Regions from separate parts of the Homo sapiens genome. Here all the other regions are reported to be linked to region 2. Evidence: microRNA targets listed by miRTarBase, many of them from high-throughput screens and not tested one by one. Region 2 holds a microRNA gene; each other region holds the end of a gene's coding sequence.

Region 1 (4,203 bases), not on the chromosome of region 2:
AAATGATTATCTTTAATAAATATGTGATAAAATTTAAAAAAAGCAAAACAAAACTTCTAGAGAATACCTTCAAAACCTTGGTGAGGGAAATTCTTAAACAGCACAAAAATCATTAGGAAAAGATCAACTTTAACATTGTCAAATTAATCAATGACTTCTCTTCCTCAAAAGACATCAAATGGGACAAGGTATTTGTAACACATATAAACAAGGATTTATATTTAGCATATATATAAATAATTTCTATAAATCAATGTTATATTTCAATAAAACAACTGAGATGAGAACATACTAAAATGTAATTATGTGTTTTATCAATTCAGTCTTTATACTTGTTTCCAAAGCAATCCATGATTTTTATTTATAATAATTTTTGTGTCTTTATAGGAATCCAGTTGGTGGAAGAATTCAATTGGCTATTGCCATTGTAATCACACTTTTCCCATTTATCTCATGGGTCTACATATATATTAACAAGGAAATGCGGTCCTCTTGGCCAACTCACTGCAAGACAGTAATTTAAATAAATTCAAGAACTTCGTTTTTAAAATGAATATTTTCAATCAATTTTTTATAAACATTAGGGGAACAAGCCAGGAGTTTATTTCAGGTAATTTGGGCTAATAGTTTTAAAACTCCAAATAACTTTTTAAGGGTGCATATAATTCGATGTAAGATTGGATGGGACAAGTAAGAGATGGTCTGATATTTTCCAGACGACTTTCTGCAGGGTCTTGTGTCATAATGTAGTGGAAAAGGCTAGAGAATAGAAGTTTAAAAATACGAGTTCTAACTTAACTTTGTAACTATGTAATTTGGGCAAATATATAAACCTCCTGGTGGATATTTATCTATAAAATAGGATTAATGCCAGATCTACTTACTTACACAGTAACAAGGATCAATCTAGATAATGTAAGAACACTCTGAAGATATAAAGTGTTTGGAAAGATTACGGAGGGCTGCCCATGATTAAAATAGAGGGGAGCAGGGATTGGGTAATATACTGAAATAGACATTCAAGAGAGGGCTATACCCCGATCTTTTTTTTTTTTTAAGACAGTCCCACTCTATTGCCCAGGCTGGAGTGCAGTGGCATGATCATGGCTCACTGCAGTCCTGACCTCCCGGGGCTCAGGTGATCCTCCTACCTCAGCCTCCCAAGAAGCTACGACTACAAGTGTGCACCACCATGCCCGGCTAAATTTTTTTAAATTTTTTGTAGAGGCAGGGTTTCACCGTGTTGTCCAGGCTGGTCTTGAATTCCTGAGTTCAAGCGATCTGTCCACCTTGGCCTCCCAAAGTGCTGGGATTACAGGTGTGAGCCACCATGCCCAGTCCAGCCCTAAACTAATCTTATCCAGAGCTGGCATAGTGCAGTGAACTAAAGGAGAACTCTAGATGAATCAAATGAGCAGGCATGTCTTGGAAAGAAAGGGAAGCTGGATAGAATAAAGGAATTAGGGACCAAACAAGAAGGCAATAGGGACTATAACTACATTCTAAATGAGAAATAAGGTCAAAATCTATATACATTCTTTATAAATGGATGTCCAAAGTAATCCTAGGGAGGAGAGCTTTTTTTTTTTTCATTTCCATTTTCATTTAAAAATGGATACTTGATTATTGGAAAACTTACAATTGTGTTTGGAACAACTTGGGTATTTGAATCTAATTTTCCAATTGCAAATTTTATGATACCTAAATACAGATAAAGTATTTCCAATGAAAATTTAGTGTCCAAATGAGTGGGGCTATAAATGTAAAATACACTGGATTTTAAAGACATGGTAGAAAAAGAACAGAAAATATTTTTTGTATTGATTACATGTTGAAACAATATTTTGGCTATAATGGGTTAAATATACTATTAAAGTTGATTTTATCTGTTTCTGTTTACTTTTATTTACGTGGCTTACATTGCATTTCTGTTGGACAGTCCTGTATTTAAGTATCTAGATGGCAACATTTTACATACACAAGCATCAAACTCTGTGGTCAGATACTGTTTTTTCTGATCTAGGAAAGAGATCTGGGAAATACTTCACTCAAAAAGAACGAGTAGTGCCTTCCACAGGTTAGGAGAGTGTAAATGAGTCTGGTAGTTTGTCTATTTTTATTGTCTTTATTACTATAGTAAATATTCTATAAATATTTGTTAAAGGAGGTATGTGTATTTTGTTTTTGTTATTGGCACAGTGGCCACTGAATGGTGAGAAATTATCTAAGATTAAGACTTGAATGAGTAAAAAGGGGGAAAACAAATCTAGTTGATATTAAAACAGTCAAAGTGAAACTTAAGGGTCAGTAAAATACACATAAAGGATTTGAGTTTTCCAGTGTATATTTTGCTTACATATTTGTGGCTTTTATAACTCCTTTAGTATTAATAAACTACTGAAGTCACATGCAAAAAAAAAACAGACTCATTTGCAAATTCCCTGTGGGCTCTATCCATTGACCAAGTCATGTTTACTTCTGTGCTTAAAGACAGTAATGTTCAAGATGTGCTTTCATCATGTATGCCTCTCCCATATCAGACTACGAAATTATGTGACTATTCATAGTCTCTTTCGCATCTTCAGTTAAGCATATAAAAGGCACTTTTGGTGGAATAGTCTTTTGAAGAGTATTAATGAAATTGAATTTAAGTATTATTATTAAATTTAATATTTCTATTATTAAAATCTTTTTTTTTTTTTTTTGAGATGGAGTCTTGCTCTGTCCCCCAGGCTGGAGTGCAATGGCGCGATCTCAGTTCACTACAATCTCCACCTCCTGGGTTCAAGTGATTCTCCTGCCTTAGCCTCCCAAGTAGCTGGAACTACAGGCACCTGCCACCATGCCCAGGTAATTTTTGTATTTTTAGTAGAGACGGGGTTTCACCATGTTGGCCAGGCTGGTCTGGAACTCCTGACCTAAGGTGATCCACCCACCTCGGCCTCCCAAAGTGCTGGGATTATAGGCATGAGCCACCATACCCAGCCTCTATTATTAAAATCTTTCACACCTTCACATTTTTCTTCCATTTTTCTCTATTTCACACAAATCTAATCACGTATTCCCCAGCTCAGAAAGCCCTAAGGGCTCCACACTATCTGGCAAGTTAAATTCTAACTCTTGGCTCATCATTCAAGGCTCTCCATAATATGGCCCCAGCCTGTCCTTTTCTGCCATATTTCTTGCCACATCCCCCTTCTCCCAGCCCGGCACCTTTCTGGTGAATCGTCACAGCATGACTTGCCATGTCTGACTTTGGCATATCCTTCAATGCCTCTGCTTTTGCTATTTTACTTGATATACTCTTCCCCACTTATTCAAGCCATTTTTCTTCATTTTGCATGTCATCCCCAATCCCTTCGAACAAAATTAAATTCATCCTCCATGTTCCCTCAGTCCTTTCTTTGTGTGACAGCAAATTTCACACACTTGAATCATGGATGTCTGTCTAATTCATGGTAAGGTCTATGAGTGCAAGAGTACATTATAGTCACCTCTGTGGTCAGCTGAACAGTGGCCCTCAGAGAGATACATGTCCTAATCCCTGGATATATGTTACCTTATATCACAAAATAAATTTTGCAGATGTGATTAACCCACCCTGAGATGGGGGTTACCTGGATTATCTGGTTGGGCCCTGAATGTTACCACAAGTGTCCTTGCAAGACGAAGGCTGAAGTAGATCTGACTACAGACAGCAGAGAATATGATACGACAGTAAAGAAAGATTTGAAGATGCTACACTGCTGGCTTTGAAGACAGAAGAAGGGGCCATGAGCCACAGAATGCAAGAAGTACAGCTCTGGAGGCTGGAAAAGGATTCGTCCTAGACCCTCCTCAGGGAGCATGGCCATGCCAACACCTTGGTTTCAGCCAAGTGGAAATGATTTCAGACTTCTGACCTCCAGAACTGCAAGAGAACAAGTATATGTTGGTTTAAGTCGCCAGGTTTGTGGGAATTTGTTACAGCAGCCATAGAAAGCTAACACTCCTTTATATCCCTATAGTGCCCATGTATTCAACAGGCATGCTTATTTCTTATAGTTGTTTAGGCCCTGAATCAAACTTTCTCCACACCTGAATAGTCCCCATTTGCCATCTAATGTTTCTACACATAAGCCTTAGCATATATGAAAACGGTGTTAAACATGTCCCATTAGTGTATAAAGGGAGTCAGTGTAAATTTATTTACCTGCTGTAGCT
Region 2 (4,247 bases):
TATAGCTTTTGCTCAGTACATTGCCGAAGATTACTTTATGGCCAAAGCGATAGCTGACCGGTAAGACAACTAAATGAAGCCATAGTATTTTTATTACCTAACTTCTGTTGGTTTATTCTTTTTGTTCAACCTATAGATTAGGGCTTTTTAATTTAATTTTATTTTTTTTGCTAGTAAGTACAGAATAGGTCAATAATTTTATTATTTTGTTTGTTTTTGAGACAGAGTCTTGCTCTGTCACCTAGGCTGGAGTGCAGTGGCGCGATCTTGGCTCACTGTAGCCTCTGCCTCCCGGGTTCAGGTGATTCTCATGCCTCAGCCACCAGAGCACCTGGGACTACAGGCATGTACCACCATGCACACTAATTTTTGTATTTTTAGTAGAGATGGGGTTTCTTCATGTTGGCCAGGCTGGTCTTGAACTCCTGAACTCAAGTGATCTGCCCACCTCGGCCTCCTAAAGTGCTGGGATTACAGGTATGAGCCACCACACCCAGCAGATCAATAATTTTATAGAGTAATTCATATTCTAATTATAGAATTGTAGATATGTACTAATGAAGAAGGTAAATGTTCTGATTCCTCTACATTTTTCAAATTAATGTGTTTTAAAGCGATTAAAAGTAAGTTTCTCTGTGTTTAGAATTTTTACTATATAGATACAAATTTCTGTGTTTTAGAAGAATTAAAACTATCAGTGCAGTCATAAACTAGTAGGTGAAAATTTAAAGACTATCATTTCAAAATTTGAAATTTGTCAGTGAATTATATGATACTTTGCTAAGAAGCCACTGAAAGATTCATATGACTGACTTAGCATTTCTCTATCACAAAATACTTGTTTTGTTTTGGTTTTTTTTTTTTTTTTTGAGACAGTCTCGCCCTGACATCCAGGCTGGAGTGCAGTGGCGCAATCTCGGCTCACTGCAGTCTCCGCCTCCTGGGTTCAAACGATTCTCCTGCCTCAGCCTCCCAAGTAGCTGGGATTATAGGCACCCGCCGCCACACTCAGCTACTTTTTTTTGTATGTTAGTAGAGGCGGGGTTTCACCATGTTGGCCAGGCTAGTCTTGAACTCCTGACCTCGTGATCCGCCCGCCTCAGCCTCCCAAAGTGCTGGGATTACAGGCATGAGCCACTGCATCCAGCCTAAAATACTTGTTTTTAAAGGAGATCACTGCCTTGTGTGAGAATTCTTTTAAATTTTTTAAAAACTGAAGTGTGTTTTAAATACAAATTCTGTCATGATTGTGTTCATGTGGTTCATGGTTTCCTAGTGTCTCCCATGAGATCCATAATGCCACTTTCTGTTTACATGTCTTGTTGTTTGGTTAGTAGTCATCAGAGACTAATCTATTAAATATGGAGCCCTCTCCATTTTTTTTCAAAATGACTGCATTTTAAGTTTCTTAAATTGTAAAGTAAGGTGGGTACAGTTTCTTCTAGTTCTTAGATGGTGCTGTCACGGGCCAGCATAATTGCTAAAACATCCATACGTATGGTAGACCTTAAGTCATGTGCTAATCATGAAAGCTGGGCTCACCCTGAATACCGGCAGTTGCCTGGTCTTTATAATGATTACTGAATGCATAACCAGTTACGCTTGCATGTGTTCATCATCATAACTTATTTTCTAATTATCTTAATTTTCAGAGGTTGGAGGTTTGCAATGTCCACTCAAGTTGCAATGCAAAACTCTGGCTCATATTCAATTTCTCAGTTTCAATCCAGAATGATCAGGTAAATCAACTGTTTTCTTTTTATACTTCGTTAAAAGGAAAGTGGGGAGGGGGGTGGTAATTTTTACAGGTTTAATGTAGTTAAATGAATGTACCTAAAGGTTGAAGATTTTTGTTTAGTTGCAGAAAATAGAGTTTAACGTCTGTGTTTAAGATAAATTTAATGTCTAAATGTATTTTATTTGCTGTATAACACTGAAAGCACTCATTAGAGAAATGTTGAGACTGAATTTTTTAATATGCTGATCTTTATTTTCTAACTTTCTGTGCTGATTAAATTTTATTATCTGTATTCATCAGAGCGTAGGCCATACAAATGAATTTAAAGACATTTTTCTTTGACATCCTAGACAAAAATAGAAAAGAGAGTCATTAAAAAAAATTTTTAGGTTGTGTGTGGTGGCTCACACCTGTAATCCCAGCGCTTTGGGAGGCCAAGGCGAGAGGACTGCTTGAGCCCAGGAGTTTGAGACCAGCCTGGGCAAAATGGTGAAACCCTGTCTCTACAAAAAATGCAAAAATTAGCCAGGTGTGGTGGCGTGTACACCTGTGGTCCCAGCTACTTGGTGGGATGAGGTGGGAAGATCGCTTGAGCCTGGGAGATTGAAGCTACAGTGAGTGCCACTGCACTCCAGCCTGGGTGACAGAGCAGAACCCCGTCTCAAGTAAAAAAAAAAAAACAAAACAAAAAAAGTTTAAAGAGAATGGTCTTTCTATCACAGGGTAAAAAAATTGATTATTTGAGGGAAAAAAAAAAGGATTTGTCTTGTAGCCAGGATATTGTTTTAAAGAAAATCCTTTTTGTTTTTCCAGGTGGACCAAACTACGAATTAACATGCTTCCTGCTACAATAATTTGTGAGCCAATTTCAGAATGCTTTGTTGCCAGTTTAATTATTGGATGGGCAGCCCACCATGTGTTCAGATGGGATATTATGGTATTTTTCATGTGTCATTGCCTGGCATGGTTTATATTTGACTACATTCAACTCAGGGGTGTCCAGGTATGTGGATAGGCATGAAAAGGTTGGCAGTCCCTTGGTGGAACTAGAACTATTTCAATTTAGAAAAAGTTGAAGGAAATGTATCTGAGCCATTCTTCAGCTTCCCATTGTAGGTTAGTCTCGGGTTTGAACATGACTTTCTCTAGTGGAATGTTGATGCAAAACTTAAGTCGATTTGCAACTTTCTATTGGTTATATAATCGCTTTTATTAAGTTTCCAAAAACATGAAGTTAATTAAATCAGTGAGTATTGAAACTAATAAGACATTAAGATAGCAGTTATTTTAATGCTTCATTAACAATTAGCATTTTCTTGAACGGTATAACATGGCAGTTAAATTACATAAGGAAGCAGACTTGATTTTACATAGTATACTTAGAAAAGTGAAATCCAAGAATTTAATTTTTTAACCTTGTCTTTAGTTTGACAGTGAGTGAAATTAAAAAATTTTTTTTTCCATTCCTAGGGTGGCACACTGTGTTTTTCAAAACTTGATTATGCAGTCGCCTGGTTCATCCGCGAATCCATGACAATATACATTTTTTTGTCTGCATTATGGGACCCAACTATAAGCTGGAGAACTGGTCGCTACAGATTACGCTGTGGGGGTACAGCAGAGGAAATCCTAGATGTATAACTACAGCTTTGTGACTGTATATAAAGGAAAAAAGAGAAGTATTATAAATTATGTTTATATAAATGCTTTTAAAAATCTACCTTCTGTAGTTTTATCACATGTATGTTTTGGTATCTGTTCTTTAATTTATTTTTGCATGGCACTTGCATCTGTGAAAAAAAAAAAAAACACATCTGTAGTCTTGGCCAAATGATACACTTTATTTTGTGGAAGTAGAGAATCAAGAGAATTGGTTCTAGGAACCTGGGTTCGTTCATCATTGTTGTTTATTTTTTTAAAATAAATAAATAAATATATATATAGATGCTCTGCAACAAACTCTGTGACAGTATCCTTCAGTAGAGAAAGTTTCTTACTTGTGAGTACACTCTTTTAGAACATTTACGGGTGGCAGCAGCTTTGCTTTAGAGTTTAGAAGATAATAGAAGGAATGACTATTCATGTCCAAAGTGAATGGTTTTGTGCAGTGAACAACACATGGCGAGGTACTAACTGAGAAACTTTTTCATGCTTTATGCCTACCTCTTGTAGTTGTTGCAGAGCAAATATAAATTGTAATAAGATAGCTAGGCCTTGCAGAAACAAACAGAAAAACTTAAAAAAAAATGATATAAGAGCTGGAGTCTAGTATTTATATGAATCTGTGAGAGATAATTTTTTTGGTCTCACTGCAATGAACCAAAAGCGGCTGAGTTTGGTTTTTAATTGTAGCCATGTATTGAAGGCATCTTTTTGACCAACTCTTGTTGGTTCTGTCTTGAACCATTGTTAATCACTGTGCTGTAATTAGTATAGCTAAATCTTTTCCTTCCTTGCTCCTCCCCCAGCCCACCCCGTCTTCCCTTAACATTTTTTCAGGGGGGGTTGG
Region 3 (4,247 bases), not on the chromosome of region 2:
CTTTATCTTCTGAGCCCCAAGACAGCCCAGTCCTCAAATTAACAATGATGGCAGGCTTCAGGAGGCTGATGGCTAGTTCTCCGCCAGACACAAATGCAAGATAGATAGTTTTAAAGCTCCTGAAGTCATGGTTATCAGAAGAAAAGCTATAAAGGAAGAACTACAGGGAAAACCTACAACACTCTCTTTGGAAAAATGACAAAATAACACATTTACTGATGCACTAACGGAAGAAGGTAGGTGCATATATTAACTATAACACATAATTAATTTTAACTGTTATTGGTGAATATGCACAAAATATACATACAAATTAGAACTTGATCAATAAATATAAATTCAAGGTCTAGATGCAAATGGGAAGCTCTCTGATGCTGGTAATTTGAACAAGAAGTTTATTGTACTTTCACATGTTTCTAATTCTATGGGAAGAAGTTGGGATTCCTTTTACTAATGTTGGCTTCTGCTCCATTATCTGTAAAGTCCACCTCTTTCACATAATCGCAGAAATTAAAGATGTCCAAGGCCCCTGTAGGGCATTTCATCCATGTCATACTCTTATCAGATGACTGTCTTTTTGTTCTGAAAGAGTGAATGAGTGGGTTTTCATCATCTCTCCATTTGAAAGTCAAGTAAGCTTTATCTCTTCGGATTCAAGGTCTAAATTTGTCCTTGTTTCTTCCTAATATTTTAATGTAATTCCTATGTCAATTGTATTTACACAATTTTTAATATTTAACTCTGATTTGCATTATAGAAATTAGTCCACTTCAATAAACATGAATGTGCAAAACAAAATTACTCTGGAAAAGTCAGGTTTTTTAAATAAACATTATCCTTTTATTAAATTACTAAAATGTTTCTCATATAACAGTAATGATTATTCTAAGCAACTGCATGAGCCTTGGAAGATTCTTCATCTCTAACACATGTTCCTCTTTCAGAAAATATCAAAACTCTCATTTCTCTGTTGTCCACCTTCCTCCTGAGGGGACTCAGGCCACACAGGGGGTCTCTTCTGACTGAGAATCCCTAATACTGAAGAAGTGGCATCACCAGTGATATGGTTTGGCTATGTCCCCACTGAAATTGCAACTTGAATTTATCTTCTGGAATTCCCACATGTTGTGGGAGGGACCCAGGGGGAGGTCATCGAATCAGGGGGGCCAGTCTTTCCTGTGCTATTCTCATGATAGTAAGTCTCATGAGATCTGATGGGTTTATCAGGGGTTTCCACTTTTGCTTCTTCTTCATTTTCTCTTGCCACCACCATGTACGAAGTGCTTTTCACCTCCCGCCATGATTCTGAGGCCTCCCCGGCCATGTGGAACTGTAAGTCCAATTAAACCTCTTTTTCTTCACAATCTTGAGGAATGTCTTTATCAGCAGTGTGAAAACAGACTAATACAGTAAACTGCTAACAGTAGAGTGGGGCATTGCTGAAAAGATAGCCAAAAATATGAAAGCAAGTTTGGAACTGGGTAACAGGCAGAGGTTGGAACAGTTTGAAGGGCTCAGAAGAAGACAGGAAAATGTGGGAAAGTTTGGAACTTCCTAGATACTTGCTGAATGGCTTTGCCCAAAATGCTGATAGCAATATTGACAATAAAATTCAGGCTGAGGTGGTCTCAGATGGAGATGAAAAACTTTTTGGGAACTGGAGTAAAGGTGACTCTTGCTGTGTTTTAGCAAAGAGACTGGCAGCATCTTTCCCTTGCCTTAGAGATTTGTGGAACTTCGAACTTGAGAGAGATGATTGTGAGACGTGGAGTCAAAGGTGATCATTTTGGAGGTTTAAAATTTGACTGCCCTGCTGAATTTTGGACTTGCATGGGCCCTGTTACCCTTTTGTGTTGGCCAATTTCTCCCATTTGGAATGGCTGTATTTACCCAATACCTGTACCCCCATTGTATCTAGGAAGTAACTAGTTTACTTTTGATTTTACAGGTTCATAAGTGGAAGGGACTTGCCTTGTCTCAGATGAAACTTTGGACTGCGGACTTTTGGGTTAATGCTGAAATGAGTTAAGACTTTGGGGGACTGTTGGGAAGGCATGATTGGTTTTGAAATGTGAGGACATGAGATTTGGAGGTGCCAGGGGTAGAATGATATGGTTTGGCTGTGTCCCCACTGAAATCTCAACTTAAATGGTATCTCTCAGAATTCCCATGTGTTGTGGGAGGGACCCGGGGGAGGTAATTGAATCATGGGGGCCAGTCTTTCCTGTGCTATTCTCGTGATAGTAAGTCTCACAAGATCTGATAGGTTTATTAGGGGTTTCCACTTTTGCTTCTTTCTCATTTTCTCTTGCTGCCGCCATGTAAGAAGTGCTTTTTGCCTCCCACCATGATTCTGAGGCCTCCCCAGTCATGTGGAACTGTAAGTCCAATTAAACCTCTTTTTCTTCCTGGTCTCAGGTATGTCTTTATCAGCAGCGTGAAAACAGACTAATACAACCAGATATATATTTTATTGCATTTTGCCTGTTTATAACCTATATTGCAAAACAATAGATTCATTTTTGCCTTCCCAAATATAAAACTATTTTAATATTGAATATGCTTTTTCAAACTCTACAGCCCCCTTCTCTCCCTCATTCCTTATGAGATTTTGATACACTTCTTAATGGGCAAGAGATCTTTTTCTTGAGAATCACTGAACCAAAACCCAATTTCTGAATTATTATTCAGGATAAAGTGCAATAACCATGACTGAAGAAACAGTATTCAATTAAAATACAGAAATTGTCAACTGAAAAATAGTGCATGACAGAATATCCAACACTGTATTGAATATTTTCTGATTATTAAACCAAATTACTTAAACCTTATACTTGAAAACTAATGCACATTGGTTTTTAAAATGACCTACTGAAACCACCATAAAATGTATCTTTTATACAGGTTAATTATAGTAACAAATCATATTGCTTTACATTGTTAAAATAATATTTTCTTCAATCATATGACCTACAAAATTATACCCTTATTTTCCACTGATTCTCATATTTAAAACCAGAATTTTTAGATTTTTCTAAATAAATTTTCATCAGTTTTGACTTCGCTTGCAACTTAGAGTTGAATCTATAAAGTACTGGATAAAAATTGCCTACTATGTAACAAATATTTCCCTGATGCCACAAGATTAAGATTTAATAGGAATATAAACTATTTCTATAAGTAATATTGTACTTCAGATGCCTTTATTTTTCCAAATGATGGGATGAAACTTCTGTATACTCTGAAACTAGAATGATAATATAAATACCCAGCCAGGCACGGTGGCTCATCCCTGTAATCCCAGCACTTTGGGAGGCCAAGGTGGGCGATATCCAGAAGCCAGAAGACCAGCCTGGGCAATATGGTAAAACCCCATCTCTACTAAAAACACAAAAATGAACCAGGCATGGTGGTGCACACCTGTAGTTCCAGCTACTTGGGAGGATGAGGCATGAGAATCACTGGAACCCAGGAGGTCAAGGCTGCAGTGAGCTGAGATCGCGCCACTGCACTCTAGCCTGGGTGACAGAGTAAGACAGAGTAAAAATATATATATGTATGCGTATACAGCTTTAAAAACAGTTTTGGAAAAAAATACAGGTGCTTATTTCCCAAGTTTAAAAGTGGATCTCCTGTGCCTAAGTTAAACAGCCTGAAAAGAGAAAACCAAAAAGGCCAACACCAGGACCCTGACTAAGGGCTTCATTAAAATATTCGAATGCTGTGGAAGTTTATTCCCACGCAAGGCACTTACTCCCAACAAGACACAACCGTTTAAAATTTTACAGCAGTGACACCAGGGAGGGGTCCCACTCCTATAGACGTCAGTATTCTGCATCGATATGCTTTGCAATGGTGTTCAACTGGATGTTGGAAGCTCCTTCATATATCGTACCTTAAGCAAAAGGAAGCAGAAGGAACAATGAGGAGTTGGCGCATGGTTAAGACAAGAAATAGCTCTATAAACATCACCTCTGCGCTTGCTATAAAACAGTTACTAGTCACATCACTTCATGTCCCCTGAATATGGTACTATTTCACAGTAATTTTGACTAAGAGATGACAATTTTCCATTTGGTTTCTCGATGTCCAGGATCAGTATTAAACTGACTAAAGGTGTAAACAAAAGTTGAAGATTTTGATTCTTCAACAATTGATGCATAAGCTCAGACTGTTATTTGTGGCAGTTTTACTAAAAAGCCTGTTGAGGCATTTAAAAAGGCAATTTGATATTTTTTAAAAATATA

The links. Region 2 holds the annotated microRNA hsa-miR-4668-5p (AGGGAAAAAAAAAAGGAUUUGUC, at 2,482-2,504, shown strand). A microRNA usually pairs through its seed, bases 2 to 8, with sites in the 3' UTR of a target mRNA and lowers its output. Matches are read on the target gene's strand: a 7mer-m8 pairs with bases 2 to 8, a 7mer-A1 pairs with bases 2 to 7 and ends in A, and an 8mer does both.
Region 1: the mRNA of TMEM220 is a reported target of hsa-miR-4668-5p. The part of its 3' UTR that is shown has no 7-base or 8-base seed match.
Region 3: the mRNA of ACADSB is a reported target of hsa-miR-4668-5p. Seed matches in the 3' UTR shown: 7mer-A1 at 1,536-1,542 and 7mer-m8 at 166-172.

What each region holds. Positions count from the first base shown.
Region 1 is chr17:10,711,773-10,715,975 of GRCh38, reverse strand. It overlaps TMEM220 (transmembrane protein 220), which reads left to right. Exons shown (of 6, transcript NM_001004313.3): 6 at 388-2,681. The coding sequence ends at 523. It also overlaps the pseudogene MAGOH2P. Among named protein-coding and RNA genes, the nearest start is that of TMEM220-AS1, 16 kb to the left of the region's middle. RefSeq lists a silencer at 2,834-3,034.
Region 2 is chr9:111,929,619-111,933,865 of GRCh38, forward strand. MIR4668 (microRNA 4668) reads left to right here and starts at 2,482; the gene lies at 2,482-2,551. It overlaps UGCG (UDP-glucose ceramide glucosyltransferase), which reads left to right. Exons shown (of 9, transcript NM_003358.3): 6 at 1-60; 7 at 1,653-1,739; 8 at 2,552-2,741; 9 at 3,209-4,247. The coding sequence ends at 3,379.
Region 3 is chr10:123,053,343-123,057,589 of GRCh38, reverse strand. ACADSB (acyl-CoA dehydrogenase short/branched chain) reads right to left here. Exons shown (of 11, transcript NM_001609.4): 11 at 1-3,895. The coding sequence ends at 3,825. Among named protein-coding and RNA genes, the nearest start is that of ACADSB, 46 kb to the right of the region's middle.